Regions from separate parts of the Homo sapiens genome. Here region 1 is linked to region 2. A link means that fine-mapping ties the variant in region 2 to the expression of a gene that starts in the linked region. Tissue or cell type: sun-exposed skin. Region 2 holds a variant in brackets; the other region holds the start of a gene. All regions are shown on one strand. Distances are from middle to middle.

Evidence for each region. PIP is the estimated chance that this variant, and not a neighbour inherited with it, causes the effect.
Region 1: CLCN5 starts here. The variant in region 2 is fine-mapped to the expression of CLCN5 in sun-exposed skin (GTEx, PIP 0.94).

Annotation. Positions count from the first base shown.
Region 1 is chrX:49,919,505-49,927,611 of GRCh38, forward strand. CLCN5 (chloride voltage-gated channel 5) reads left to right here and starts at 3,092. Exons shown (of 15, transcript NM_001127898.4): 1 at 3,092-3,288; 2 at 3,903-3,978; 3 at 5,667-5,810. The coding sequence starts at 5,795. RefSeq lists a silencer at 3,354-3,403.
Region 2 is chrX:49,991,367-49,999,473 of GRCh38, forward strand. The region is part of intron 3 of CLCN5 (chloride voltage-gated channel 5); the gene reads left to right. Among named protein-coding and RNA genes, the nearest start is that of MIR532, 7.7 kb to the right of the region's middle. The variant A/T (reference allele first, on the strand shown) is at 3,768.

The sequences.
Region 1 (8,107 bases), 72 kb before region 2:
ATTATCATCATTATCATTATCAATAGTAATACAAGCTAGCATTTATTGAGTGCTTAATCTGTTCTAACTGTTCTACACCTGTTAATACATTTACTCCTATTATCCCATTTTATAGGTAAGAAACCCGAAACAGTGAAGTTAGATAACTTGAACAAGGTGACACAGCTAGTAAGCGTCTGAGTATGGTTGGCTTTGAGCCCAGGCAGTCTGGCTCTGGAGCTCACTCTGTTTTGTTTTGCAATTCGCAAAAGATAAAATGTTCTTTTTTTGAAATGCACATTTTTTGGGGGGAGGGGGAGATTTCGTCCCCCAACTGGAGCCCTCCAAGCTGTCATCGGTCAGTGGCGACACCAAGTGGTAAACTGGGTGTACTGCAGCCCTTTTATAACTCCCAATTCCCCCCAATTCCTTGCTCCCTCCCAACCCCTCCTACTCGCTCCCCAGCTCTCCCAAATAAACCTGTATGTACTTTAAGTAAAGCCAATATGTTTGCTCTGCAGAGGCAGTTTCGTGACATGTCTCCTTCCAACCAGACTGCCATCCTTCAAACCGTTTTTTCCTGTATCAGAGGAAGAGGTGTCCGAGGTTAGTTTGTGTTTTGAATCTCATTTCTCGCCTCTCAATTATTTTACTCCATTAGTTATCCCCTCCTTTTCTTGACTCTTTTGTGTGTGTATGTGAGACAGAGTTTCGCTCTTGTTTCCCAGGCTGGAGTGCCGTGGTGCGATCTCGGCTCACTGCAAATTCTGCCTCCTGGGTTCAAGTTATTCTCCTGCCTCAGCCTCCTGAGTAGCTGGGATTACAGGCGCCAGCCACCATGCCTAGCCATGTATTTTTAGTAGAGATGGGGTTTCATCATGTTGGCCAGGCTGGTCTCGAACTCCTGACCTCAAGTGATCCACCTGCCTTGGCCTCCCAAAGTGCTGGGATTACAGGCGTGAGCCACTGCACCCGGCCTCTTGCCTCTTTATTATTGATTTCACCAGTAGTTTTTCTGCTCGACCTACATATAAGCTCCAGTTTCTTCTACTTCAATGACAAAAAAAAAAATCAAGCAAACAATCAAACCTTTCCTTGAACAATTACTCTAGATTCACCTTTTAAAAGATGAATTCCAAAAGAGGATTGCCTTGCTCAGAAACCTCAATTCTTTCTCAGTCACTTTTTGAATTAGGTATAAATCTTAGTCCAATATTCAGGATGCTCCAAAATTGGGCCCCAATTTACCTTCTGGGTATTATCTTCCACAATTCCCCTGTACTTCCTTACCCTAAACTTCAACCACATAGGACTACTCACGGGTCCTCACATATAACTTCCTGCCTGCTCACCTTTGCCAACGGTGTTACCTCCACTTGGATTTACCTTTATTAGAGGCCTGTACTGATATTTTCTAGTTATTTGTGGCTATCCCATACACCATGAGTGCCTGAAGGAAGGGACTGAATGTTACCAGCTCAGAAAGCAAAAAAATTTTGGACTGAAAAAATAAAAATCCGGCCATTCATCAGGCCGGAATAACACACAGATAAAACCAGATGCAAATTTAACAGAGAACAATATTTCTTTGGCGGACATATTGCAGCTGTAAAGTGGTAACGATGTTTTTATTTCAGTGACCACCACTTTTTTATTCACTGAGAGACTTTGTTCTCTAAAATCGTAGATTATCAGAAACTTTTCTGCTTGAAATCGTATCAGTAAGAATGAAACATCCCACATGCATCTGGAGGACATAAGTTTCTTTGACACAGAGAAGCAGCCTCAATTTCCAACCCAGGTGCAGAGCTTCAGATAAGGGGTATCTGGACACAACATTCCACATCTATCTTTATTTTGTGGTTCCCAAGGAAACACAACTCTGGGTTCACTTTGCAGTTCAGACCTGATGGTGACCCCAAATGACAGTACTGCTTTGCTTTGAGCTTACCAAAAACACTGCTTTGTTTAAAATTCACCTAAACTCCACTCTTCTCTCCAATCCTATAATGACTCCATGTTTTTCTGTTTGATGAAATGCCTACCGTGTGCAGTCTCTCATATTGCAATGGGTCAAAGCCTGACTATGTCGGATTACAAATTTGTCCCCGGTAGCCTTATGCTGATTGGGCTAGGATAGGGGTTTTTAAATCCCTGACCACTTAGCTTGTCCAAAGTAGGCATTCCAAATTGTTCACTGCAGTAGAGTACCCTGGTTCTAGTTAGATTACTTGGATTATATGGATTCCAGTCTCAGGTCTGCCAAGAACTAATTAGCTGGATCATCTTAAGTGAGTCAGTGCACCCCATTTGGCCTAAGTTTTCTCTTCTGCAAAACGGTGTGCTGTTTCTTTCAAACCTAGGGTAAGGGCTTTGGAGTAAGTTAGACCTAGGTTGGATTCCCAGTTCTACCACGTACTAGTCCTGTGACTTCAGCTTTTCTGAGCCTCTGTTTTGTAATGATTAATATGGAGATAATACAGTACTAACAACTGCAGTATAGTTTTTGCAGCGTTGCTGGAAACATCAAGTTGGCTGTTAAAAGTATCACTACGTTTGATCACTATTCCTATTCCTACTATTATATGAGTTTAGACAAGTTACTTAACCTTTCTGTGCCTGTGTATTTTTATGAGTAAAAATGGAGAAATAACCCTCGGGGTTATTGTGAACACCAAATGAGACGAAAAAAGTAAAGGGGTTAGGAGAGTGCCTGGCACATAAGAAGCAGCTCAAATTATGTGATCTAATGTTATTAGTATTAGATTTCTACTACTAATTACTCTGTGGGCCGAAAGCTCAGGATAGACAGTTTCATTCTAAGGACAAACCTTCTCCCCAGCAAAAAAAGGCACTGCAAGCTGGAAATAGTGAAACACAATGGGGCATTGCGTTTTCAAAGGCAACTGACACGCCCAGCACTGGGATAGGACCCGCCCGCCCAGTCCTCATTAAATATGGCAGCGAGCGGGGCCGACGTACTGCGGCTGCGCAAGTTGAAACTCCTCCTGGCAGCTCCTCCCCGGCGGGCCTCCCCTCATCTCGGCTGGGTAGAGGTGCCGGGTGTGAGCTCGGCGTGGCGCGCACGCGCAGACGCTGGCTGGGCTGAGCCGATACTCGCGAGGCGCCCTGTCACATGAGCCGCGCGCCCGCTTCGCTCCCCCTCCTCCCCGGCTGGGCTGTGTGAATGAAGCTCTGCCGGCTACGTGGGGCGCTCACTCAACTTGGTGTCCTGGACGCCAGAGCCGACCGAGCGCGCTGCCCACCGGCGGCGGACACGGGCTCCGCCGCTCCGGACCTCGGCGACAGGTAAAGGCAAACGGGCTGTCCCTTCCCCAACAGGTCCTTGGCGGGCCGCTGGCCCCCGGCCCACCCCCGGAGCACCCCCTAAGCGCAGCGACACAGGGGAAGCGCAATCCCGCTGGCTTGGACCCCCGGAGATGGGGCTTCCCCGCGCCCGGCGTTGGCAGCCCGGCGCTTAGAGGAGGTAGACAGGCTAGTTCCAGCCAGTGCTGAGCGGCGTCTTCCCGGGAGCCCAGCCCTGTTCTCCGAGTTATGGTCCCTGGGTTGCCCGAGCGAAGTTTCCTTGCGGAGCGGCGCCAAGCCCGCCCCGCTTTTGAATCGGAGTGTTTAGCCGCCTGCGTCCCCTTTCCCGGACTGGGGTAGGGTGACTTAGGCTGGCAAAGCTCAGCCGAGGCCCGGCTCTTCTCCCTCCGGCTCTGGACTTGCCGCTGGTTTTGTATGGGTCTTAGCAAAGTGGAGAAACTCTCGGAAAAGTAGTTGCTGCGCTGTTTTCCTTTTGCCACTTAACGCGCGTAGCTGGTTCTCTCCAGACTTTCGAGCCTTGCTCTTGAGCGCCTTGATCCACACGGGAAAAGCTTTGCCTTTACATTGACGCACGTTTCCTTTGATTAACATTTCAGAGCAAATCAGTTGCCTGGAGTTCCCAGTGAAGTTGTACCTGTGCCCGTGCGATAACGTCAGTGGAAGCTGCCCCGAGTAAGTGAGGGAAATCTAGAAGTTTGGAGCATAAAAAACCAGCACGAATCAACTTTACATAAACTTCATACATTTATTAGCAACTGCTCGGGTTTAACTTCAGGGATGTTAAATTTCGCCTAGTCCCACGGGACGATGATCATTACTTCTTAACTGCACGCGAAATAGGAGAAGAAAAAAGGCAAATCAAAACAGACTGTCCCAGGTCTCAGAGAAGTCATCGGAGCGCTTTTTCCTGCTGAATTCACCCTAGGAGTTTGTGAGTTCCTAGTTTTCTTGGACTTCGCGAACTTTTCCTTGTCCAAAGCACTGTCTTTTCTCTGTTGGTGTTTTGGGACTGGTGTACACATTAACCCTTTTGTCATTAAAGAAGGCCAACACGATTCTCAAGCTAGTATTAGCCTTCAGTGTTTGTGCTTTAGCACTTTCACTTAGGAGGTGGAGGTGTTGGTTGTATAAAAGATATGGAAATAACAATCTACTTTGATGTTCACCAGGTCAAAAAGGTGAAGACTTTTAGAAAAAACAGATTGGCTTGTATGCTAAGTAGGGAAGACCAGTTTATTAACTGAGATCTTGTTTAAATGGGCAAGCAGAGTGTTAAGCCTCTAAGTCAAACTAAGTCGTCAGACCTCTCATTTTTTCTCCCATTCCTAGCTCCTATTTTTTTTTTTTTTTTTGGTTTGAGCCGGCTCTCGTTCTGTCGCCCAGGCTGGAGTGCAGTGGCACAATCTTGGCTCACTGCAACCTCCGCCTCCCTCCCGGGTTCAAGCGATTCTCCTGCCTCAGCCTTCCGAGTAGCTGGGATTACAGGCGTCACTTGTAATTATAGTGCACCGCCATACCTGGCTAATTTTTGTATTTTTAGTAGAGACGGGGTTTCACCATGTTGGCCAGGCTGGTCTCGAACTGACCTCAGGTGATCCGCCTGCTTCGGCCTCCCAAAGTGCTGGGATTACACCGCACCCGGCCCCTAACTCCTTTAATATCTTTGCAAATATTGTCCTAGGACTGGATTTGAAGTTTTAACAACAGGAATTAGCTGAATTAATTTGGTTTTCTTTAAACTGGTATTCCATTTTTACATTTTTCTTCTTCTTTGGTTCATTTTCCCCCTGATTATAAAAGCAATATACGCTCACTATAGGAAATTTGCAAAGGGTGGGAAAGTATAATGACACAAGGAGAGAGAACTACTACTCAAAGGGTATCATCACTCTTCACTTTTTATTCCGCTTCCTTTTTTTTCCCCTATACAAGATCTGTTTCCAAACTTTATTCATAAACTTTCCTCTCCTTCTACTGATTTTTAAATGTAAAGTTGGGTATTTTGGGGGTTGGTTAGGGCACTGGATATTAATGTTGCTCTTCAGTCTCCAAAGCATGAAACTTCAAGGTAGGAAAGGTGCTTAACGGTGATTTCATCCAGCAACTCATCAACTGAGACTCAGACCTCATTTACTGAAGCTCTAATGATTCATGCAGAAATGTATAGCACTGAGTGGCAACATTAACTCACTCCAGATCTCTCTCTCTTCAGAGATACCTTGCTGCTTAGAGGGAAACTTGACACTACCCATGCCTGCATATCTTTGAAAGAGAGGTTCAGAGAGGAGCAGGAGATAATTTTCAAGCATTTGAAGTGTATAGTTTCTTTTAGGTATTCATTTTTCTGTTTACATTTTCAGGTTTGGGGCTTTAGCCCCTTGGAGAAAACAGGGCCACATAGCTGCCTTTCTATCAAGTCTCCCTACAAAACTGAGAGGCTCTGGGAAACTCAGCCTGTGACCCCAGCGTGGGTGAAGATAGGATCAAGATGGCCATGTGGCAGGGTAAGAAATTAGCACTTATTCTTCTAACTGGTTTTTCCTCCTACTCTATTCTCTACCCTCACCCAACCGTTCCCCACCCAGCCAATGGCAGGCAGCCAGCTGTTCTTTAATTTAACCCTTTGTCTTTGCAGGGACAAAACACATTAGTTTAAAAAGAAGCTGCTGCTAGCTATAAGTTTAAATTATTTAAAAGTGGGGTTGTAGGAGAAGTAGGAAAATGCCATGCCAGCAGCATTTAAAAGAACTCCCTTCATTTAAATAAGTGATCATTGGGGGTTATATGCCAGGAGACAGGATATTTTTTCCCATTTGTGTTTTTCATTTGTTTCTGGCAAATTTCTATCATAAGATTCCCCACCATAAGGTTGGGGAGACAGATGTCACTGCCTCTCCAGCTTCATCTTCCCAATAAAAACTTTGTGATGTATGCAGTTTGAAAGAGCATATTTAATGTTACAGTGTTTATATTTGATACAATATAAACATTGAGAAGGAAAACGCCTGTTTTAATAATATGAACTACCTGAGAGCAAAGCTCAGTAGTATCTTAGCTGATGTATTACATCTCTCATGAACTTGTGAATTCCTACCACATACAAAGTTATGTTTTATTTTGAGCGGAGTTGCGGTTTGTGCCCTTTGGAGGGTTTAGGAGTCTCCACGGGTATGTGGGATTTTTATTGTTATCAAAAGTGAGTGTGGGTTTAAGAAATGATAGACAAACACTACCAAAATTGGCCTGTGACCCACAAAAAGTTAAAGACCACTTAAATGGAGTGGAATGAAATAGCTTGAATATCTAGAAATATTCAGCAGGTTGGTTAGTTGGTGGTCTAATGTATCTTTTAAAAATGTTTCATTGTGTTGGTTGTGACTTTATGTAGGCACACAAATGTAACAAGTAGTTTCCATGTATAAAGATTATCAATGAGAAGACATTTATGGAAACGGGATTTGGCCTGTATGCTTCCTTTGACTCACACAATGGGCATTTATCAAGAGCAGTTTGGATATTCTTGCTTAAATCCTGAGACATTATTTCATTCAACAAACGAAATACAGAGATGAATAAGTTGCAGGATGCTAGAAGATTCCTTGTCATCTAAAGACAGACATACAAACAAATAATTTTGCCATGTTGAATAAGTGTTAGAATAGAGAGGTACAAAAAGCAAGGGAAGCCCCGAGAAAAGCTTGATGAAGTCTGAGTTTTGAGCTGGTCTAAAAAAATGAGTAGGAGCAAATGAGAGAATTGCATTCTGGGCAGACAGAGCAGCACTGTTTGGGAAGTTCCAAGTTGCTCTGTTTGCCTCATGTGAGATGTGTAGGGGCGCGACCTCAGATGAAGCAGGGAAGGTAGTTGGAGGCCAGATAATAAAGAGCCTTGTATGTTCTAGGAAGGATTTTACACTTTATCCTGAAGACAAAGATTCTAAACAGGGAAGTAACATAATCAGATTTTGTTTTAGAAAGATTACTTTGGCAGCAGTGCTGAGCTGGAAATGATGAAAACTGGGAGTCAGTCAGGAGGTTTCTGGAATAGTTTAGGGGAGAGATGGTAAGGGTCTGAGCAGAAGCAGGGGCAGTAAGGTTAGAATGGGATTCTAGAATGTTCTGTGACTGGATGTGGCAAGAAATGGGCCTGGATTAACTACCAGCTTGGGTGCCTGGGGGCCACTGGTGCCATTCTCTGAGATGGGGAGCATGGGAGGCAGCTGATGGGCATGGGGGTGGTGCACTGGATTTGGATGACCTGTTTGGGTTGAGACACCTATGTACTGTCAGGTCAATGTTTCAAAGACAGTTTTGAAAGTACAGAACTGATATTGGCACAGATGGGGATCTAAAGTTTTGTTCCTAATGATGCATAAAGAGCTTGTATTTTTTTCTCTGTAGTTAATGGAAATGTCATTACTAGTTAATGATTTATTTTACAATAAAAACATTTTAATGTTTAACAACTCTTAATCAAAATGTCATATTTTCATAGTAAATAATGTATTTTGCAAGCCCAGGCCCTGAAATCAGATGTGCTTAAAATTACATTGAAGTGAAACCTCATTTTTCCAGCATTAGTGAAGAGGGGAGTATTCTATATAAGTAAGCTCTTTGGATAACTGCAGCTTATCCTTTGTTTTGGCTAACCTCTGAAGTAACCAGCAAAGTACGATGATAGTTTGGAAGCAGTGTGGTATGATAGTTAAATGTGTGGGTCTGAGTTCTACTCCATTGGTTCTGTCACTTGGTAGCTACGAGGCCTTGGGCAAGTAACTTAATCTCTCTGTGTGGAAGTTTTC
Region 2 (8,107 bases):
TATTCATGTCCTTAGCCCACTTTTTGAGGGGATTATTATTTTTTCTTGATTTGTTCGAGTTCTGTGCAGATTTTGTATATTAGTTCTTTGTCAGATGCATAGTTAGTGAAAATTTTCTCCCATTCTGTGGGTTGTCTGTTTACTCTGCTGATTATTTCTTTTGCTGTGCAGAAGCTTTTTAGTTTAATTAAGTCCCATCTATTTATCTTTGTTCTTCTTGCATTTGCTTTTGGGTTCTTGGTCATGAACTCTTTGCCTAAGCCAATGTCTAGAAGAGTTTTTCTGGCAAGGTGTTTAATAATGCTACAAGTTTAGCCAAAGGATGTCAAGGGGTTTTAAAACTTTCCTGTTAACATATAACACACCTACAAAACAGTGTGCAAATCCAGTTACAGCTCCATGATTTACCAGAAAGTGAAGACACCCGTGTATCCAAGGGTGGTGAGAATTTCACTGGGAACTTTCTTTCCTTTCTTTCACAGCCCCAGCGATGTCTTCTTAAACATATGGCGTTAGTGGGTGTGTATGTTATGAAGTGTAAATAGTAATCCATGTGCAGAGGTGCTGCTCAGTTGAATGAATTAAGCCTTTGACTTGTCTCATTGTCCTGAGAGCATTGACGCCATCTGTCTGGCAGCACAAATTCTGACAACAGCCCAAATCTATAGGGTCTTTCAGTTCATTTATTTTTTTAAAAAGCTTTCCAGGTGTTTTGAATTATATTTAGTTGTGGTTAGTGGTAAATTTATGAGCTGGCTGGCTACATCTTCTTGAGTTGTGCCATAGAATCTGCAAAACGGTCCCGGGGTCTCTCTCTTGGGGTCTCTCCCTCTCTTTTTTTCTTTTTTTTTTTTTTTTGCCTTCCAAATTTCAGCTTGGAAAAATAACAAAAATGTTCTCAGCTCCCCATTTTCCCACCATTACTGCTTTCTTTCAGCTTTCAAGGGATGAATTCTGACATGCAGTTTCATGTCCTACCCTAGGATTATACACAACTCTCATAAAGTACCCATGGCTAGAAAATCTGCCTGTTTTCTCCTTAAAAGCCCTATGTGGTTTGTAGGGCTGACATTTTAATCATTACCCCTGTTAAAATTCCCAGTGACTGTCCAGGTGCATCACTGGCAGAATCTCCAAACCAAAGTTTAGGAATAAAAAGGAAGAAGAGAAGAAATACTTAAATATTGTACTTACAGTTTGTGTTGAGGAGAAAAATGCTTACACTGCTAAAGTCTATTGCAGCTTAACTAACACTTCGCTAGGACAATATGCTGAGTGTTCGGCATGTTGTTTTCTTTATTTTTTCCCCCTAGCAATAATTTCTTAACTCAGTGTTCCATTAACCTTGAGGCAAGCCAAGAACTTTTTTAGGATGCTTTTAATGCAAGTAATTTACTTACCCATATGATTAATTAAGGGATATACTGCCATTATAAAGGTTTGCATATATGTAGAGCTATAATTTTTCCTTGGTTTATAAAGTAGTTTATAAAGTTCTGCTGACCCATAAAAATCTAACTGTTGCAGTTACTGTTAGGCAGAGTACAGTAGGGTGTGTAACTGGTGTGCTGTCATTTCCTTGAGCTAACTAGGGAGAACTTGTTATTTGGTGGCTGGGTGATGGGTTAAGCAATACAATAGTTTAAGCAGATTTAAGAATCCAGCAGGACAAGTTAGGAAGTGAGACTCCTGTGAACTTCTGGCATTAGAGGGAGATGTGCTGGCCCCAGTGGATTTGGGTCTCTTCCTTCCTTGGCTTGAGCTGTGGATTCTAGGCATTTAAGGTTTCCTCCCCACACCCACCTTCTCCACCACCAAGGTCAACCTCAGAGCAGCATCTCCTAAGAGACCTGGAGAGGAAGGGTTTCCGGTTGTCCTTGCTTTTTAATTTAAGGGCTTTGTTTAAACCTGAATTCAAGGGGGAAAAAGCAGTTTTTCCACATATAAGGGAAGTATCTAGCTGGATTTTGTGCTCTTTTGTTACTAAAGTTCTAAAATTGTGGACTTTTAGTATCCTGTGATATGTGTTTTTCATGTGCTAAATTCCAAAGCCAGGACAGGAGTAGGGAGGGGGTCCAGAGTGTCCTTTCGTTGGCTCTTCCAGATTCAATGTGTAATCACTAGGGAGAGAAATAAGAGCAGAGGTTTTACAGTAAATAATATAGTTTGAATGGTAATCATCATATAATCCAAAAGCATTTCTTGAGCAACTATTGTGTATCTAGCATTGTGAAGGAGGGTCTGAGTAAATTTGCCTGAATCCTGGTTCTGTTGTGCTTATTATTCAATGAGAACACAATAAAGTAGTGAGTGGCATTGTCCTAAGGGAGTTTAGGAAAGGGAAAATATCATGAAAGAAGTGAGACTTGAGCTAGCCTTTAAAGACAGTTAATATTTGGGCCAGTCTGGCCCAGTAACACAAGTCTGGTTAGAGGTGGGTGTGGGGGCTGACCATGAGGAAATTGGCTTGACTTGAGAAGAGATCTGTGGGGCAGCTGGGAAGCAGGGCAGGGGAGTTAGAGATGGAATGTGGCCAACCACAGGGAATGGCCTTGGAGAGTAATAACCTAAGGAAAAGGCCAGGACATCAGTGAGAAAAATAGGGATAGAAAGTAAAGGAATAAATACAAAATACTGCAAACAAGAAAGTTTGGACTTGGTACCAAATTAAATACCGGGGTTAAAAGAGGAGGGAGCAAAAGAGAATCGACATTCTAAGTAGGTGACATCAAAATAGCAATTGTGATAGCAGAGAATTTGGGGAGAAAGAAATCTGCTTTGGGGAGCAGTAATGTGTTTAGGTATGTTTTTCAAGTGTCAAACTTTTTATTTGGTGGTAATTTAAAATATGCTGTGGCTTGAATGGGAGAGCAGGAATAGATTTTTAGAATTTGGAAGTTATTTGAGAATAATGATGTCTGTAACCCATAATAGAATTCAGAGAAAGGTGATTAGACAGATGTATGGTGGGGCAAGGTGGAGTGGTGGTGGGGGGCTAGCCACAATAGGAACCTTGAGGAAGGAAGAAGTGGCAACAAATATTGAAGGAAGGATCAGAGAGGTAGTAGGAGAACCAGAATACTGTACCATATAATATAAGCTAAAAAGGGCATTTCAGGAATTAGGGAGTCATCTTATGTCAGATGCCAAAAGAAGAAATTGAGGAGAGTAGGAAGTTAAAAATCCTTTTAGCTGTATTAAAGTCTAGTATATATTAAGCCCATTTGCCATGCAAAGTTAGAATCTCATTATAACACAACCTGCAATAGTACAGAATTTGATACACTCCTATTCAGTTTTGTGCTCTATTCCAAGAGGATAGATATTCCTGGAAGCATCTTATCCATGACTCTTCTGCTGCATAAACCCTAGGGACAGCATAAGATAGAAGTTTATGCATATTCTCTTAACAGATATACAGCAGGTCACAGCAGTTAAACACGATTGGGTGAATTCTTCCACCAAGTTTCAGCAGGCTTTTTACCCCTCCAAACAAATATTCATATCAACTTTGGTATGATGCAACTAAGATGCAGAAACATTAGCCTCTCGCTCTTGAGGCTCAACTCAAGTCAGTGAAATGGGGTTGGAACTATAATCCGGTTCCCCAGATTGTCTAATTTGTTTTTTTCTTCTCTAACCCATTGAGAAAATAAAGATTAACCTTCAACTCAATATATCTTGCCTCCTGGACCTAAATTCAGATCAAGACGTATTCCTAAGCTTACATTTTAGAATTACAGAGTAAGGTGTAGGCGGCATTTGTC[A/T]TTCTAGTAGTCACCACACCTTAGGTGGGTGGTTGGGCAGAACAGTGACTGAAGGATGGAGTGTGTGTCCCTAAACCCGACACGCCCTGAAATCTTCCTGAATTAGTAAGTCACTTTATCCATATATTCTTGCACAATAATGGCGAAGGGGAAGTAATTTGGATAGCTGCTGATAAGACATTTTTGGGCCCGTGAAATGGCAATACTTCAAACAGAATGGGAGTAGCTGTACTAAACCAAGCAAACAGAATTCTTTCGAAAATAGTTACGGAGTTTCTACCTTGTAGCTGAGGCTTCCGAGCAAGGGTAAAGTCAGTCCCTTCCCTCTGGGAGAGATAAAGCACAGTGCAAGTAACTGGAATGCAAGGCAGGATGTGTCTAAGTGCTATGTGAGCGAGTCATAGCAGAGACATTCTTAGAGTGGGTTCTTGGAGGAAATGTAGAGTGTAAAGGCTTGACAGCTCCTAAGAAAAGCATCAATGAAGAGATAATGAACCTATTCATTCTGCCAATCTACCAAATGGTAAGACGTAATAAGTTTATGTAGCAAATGAATAGTGTAACTGTGTCTATTTTTACAGGGGACTTGAGCTCATGAGTAAAGTCCTTCCAAGTTGTCATTTTTGTTTAAATTTCCCTTGAGCAATAAAGTAAAATTCATTCAGCTGCCAGTTTTATCATGTGTTATGTACTGGCTTTAGAGCTGGAGGGGTTGGGAAATATGAGAGTTTCATATTAGGAGCACCAGCACAGGATAGGTAGCTTGCCCAGGATGAAGAGTAGCAAAATAAATGCCTTGTTATCCACGTGGCATATGGCATTCTGTTGTTTAGTGCTTTGCAATACAGTGTGGCCATTTCAGTGAAGGGTGCTAAGACTCCAGATACCTAAGTCTTGGCCTAAGCCATTATCTATCTCTGTGTTAGTGCTGGAATCCTTGGCATTTTCTGACATAATCATGCCCAAGCTTGATTACCCAAGTTCTGTAGATTGTTCAAAGTGTCCCTTGTGCTTATCTCATCTATCAGCTCAGCTGTCATACTCATTCAACCCTTGTGCCGAAGACTGTGTAAGATTCATCTTCATAAAACACCACATAGGATGAATTACCAGTTTCTGCTCTTGAAATCTATTGAATCACTCCTCACTCCACACCCCATTACTTCCTTTCTGTTCTCACCTCTACTCAGCCTAGTTCAGGCCCTCCTGAACTCTCTCATCTGTCAGTTGTGAGAGCTGAGCTTTTAAATTGATTTCCCTGGTGCAAATCCATATTTCCACTTGCTGCTAGACTAAACTTCCTGAAGAAGCATTTTACTCTCCAACTTATAAAACTTTGGTAACTGCCCATTGCCTGTAGCTCTGTTTTGCAGCATCGAACCCCATGATATGCGTTACTGTCTTCACAGTCTTCATGTCCATCTGGACTTGTTATCTTCTTTTAAATCAGCTCATTTTAAATATTAAAACATGTATTTTAAAACATGTAGCCTCACTGCAAGCAATAAACTCCATGCAAACATGAGTCAGGGTTAGTTTTAATGTATTCCTCTTTACAGTCAAATGGACACATTAAGTAAGAGGAACAACATTGGTGGGCCACCTAAAATTCCCTCTCCTAAGAGGTTGCTCACCACACTGATAGTCCACCTCATTATTATTATTGCAGCATTTAAGGACCACAGCATGGCCTTGACCTTATTCACCCTCTTCTCTCTGTCAGAACTCTCCACTCCAGCCAAACTGGTTTCTTTGTGGCCTCCTTAGGTAGTAACTTTATATATTCTCCTTAGCTTCTGAAATACCTTTCTCTACCTCCTCCTCCTCCTGATCTGTGTTTGTCTTTTCCATCCCCTTTGGTCACTCTTCACTCCAACTCATCTTATCTATAGCAGTGCCTCCCCCTCTCTAAATTCTTGCATTTTGCATCACTGCCTTGTATCAGTAGTTCAGCATTTTCATTTTATCTGGCTTAATTCTGTCCTCATTGTATCATACAGTGTCAGAGTTAAGATGTATCTCAGAGAACTTTTCATAGGACTCTTACTTGATGTAGACCCTTGAAGCTCCTTGAGGACAGCAATCACATTATTCCTATCAAGCCCCAAATGTGTGTCTCTCTTTTAGGGTTTTTCTTACTCCAGAAGTCATTGAATACACCATTATTTCAGGATTTTTCAGGAGTTATTTATCTAGCTCATTCTGCTGATCAGCAGTGTTTCCACCAGAGATGTCAAAGTCATACCTTTATTATCTTGCCCCCCACTTGTCCCTGTTGTAAGTTCCCACCCTTCACACCTTACCTCAATACCTCCTCACCTCCTGACCTCATACATTCAGTCTTCCTAGTTTTCAATCCATTTTGTTACCTTCTTCTTTACTTCCAAATAATAATAAACTCTTGTTTTTTGAGACAGGGTCTCACTCCATTGCCCAGGCTGGAGTGCAGTGGTGCAGTCATAGCTCACTGCAGTCTTGATCTCCTGGGCCCAGGCAATCCTCCTACCTCAGCCTCCTGAGTAGCTGACACTACAGATGTGTGCTACTATGCCCGGCCTTTTTTTTTTTTGTAGAGATGGGGTCTCACTATGTTACCCAGACTGGGCTCAAACTCCTGGCTCAAGTGATCATCTTGCCTCAGCCTCCCAAAGTGCTGGGATTACAGGCATGAGCCACCATGCCTGGCCAATAATAAACATTTTTTTGTTGAAGATCCCATCTGTGTCTATCTCCCTAGTTCTCTCTTTCTTTTACCCTTAGCCCCAAGTTGTTGAACATAAAGTCTGGAACTCACTACTCTTTAGCAGTTCCTTTCTGGCCTCAGACAAGGGAGAAGCTAAACAGTTGGGGTCAGGGGCATTCATGAGGATCTTTGAGTGATATTTCCCTAGAGAGGCCCATTTTCCTGTTGCTGATGCTAACAAAGATAGTTAACATTTGGCACTGGCAGTGTCCAGACACTGAGCTCAGCACTGGTCATAGTGTCCTGGTTAATCCTTGCAACAACCCTAAGAATCAGGGACTCCCGCCCTCCCCATTTTACAGATGATGAAATGCAGGCATAGGGAGATTAGGCACAGCTGTTAATGGCAGAACCAGGCATTCCAAAGCTGAGACTATACTGTACTGCTCAAACGACACAGGTGTAGAAGGTGTATGGCAGCCTGAGCCCCATTTCCTGTTTGCATATTCCTGCTCATACATGCACAGGAATATATACTTAATGGGGTACGGTCACTGGACCCTTCTCACTTACTCTCTCACCACCCCCTCTGCTCCTGCCATTTTGTGGGCACCCACATAGACGTAGTGCTGCAAAGTGAGCCTCCTTTTGAGCAGATCCACACAAAATGTGCAGATAAACAAGCCTTCTACCTCAGGCCTGCAGCACGCCTGCTTTCTGACCTGCTTGGTACGTTTCGGGCCCAAAGTGTCAGAGTGTGGATTTTCACAATCCCCCTCCCACATTTTAAGTTTGCAGGCAAATGAACCTTAATGTGCCTTCTCTACTTCCCTCCCTCCCTCCTTCCCTCTCACACTCAGAGTGCCAGAAAGAAGAACCTGCTGACTCCACCACTCGTCTATATGTCTTGACTGTAGGAGAGAGAGCTTTCCTGATCCCATTCCTATTTGTGGAGTCTGTGGGAGAGCAAGCCATCTTGCCTTCTTGTTATTTCTCTCCTTCACCCATGCATGACACTGCAAAGGGTTTGCTGGCTTGAGTCTTCTACACACACACACACAGTCTGAGACATCTGATGTGTTCACCCTCCCATTTGCCTTGAATGGTAGTGTGTGTGTTTTTTAATTCCACTCTTATATACACAACTTACAGGAGAGTGAATTTTCTAGTGCCACCCCCCCGCCATAGGCTATGTGCCCCCTTGCTTTTTTTCACCCAGCATCCAGAGTCGAGATTGTTTAGTGCCCTTCTTACAGGCCTTGTTGGCAAGAGTGAGCATTATTATGGGACACCCTCCCCACCCCCGACACAGATGATGCACACAGGAGTACAAGATGATGAGGCTCCTGATCACCCCACGCCTCCTTAGACCTACGTCTGTGTACATCCTCTGTCTGTGAGGGAGAGAGGAGGTGACTCCTTACCTGTTTGTCTCACATGCCTCACACATTGGGGTGTGAGCTGTCTCAGTTCCCTCCCACACATGAGGTTTACAGATGTGCAAGCTTTCTGAGCTGTGCCCTGCCTCTTAAACCCAGCATGCCTTCTTAGTGCTCTTCCCACAAGCATGCATTATTGGAGAGTGGACTTTGCTTTTTTTTTTTTTTTTTAACTTGCTGAGTTGAAGTATTTGAAGGATAGTGGGCCTAAAAAAACT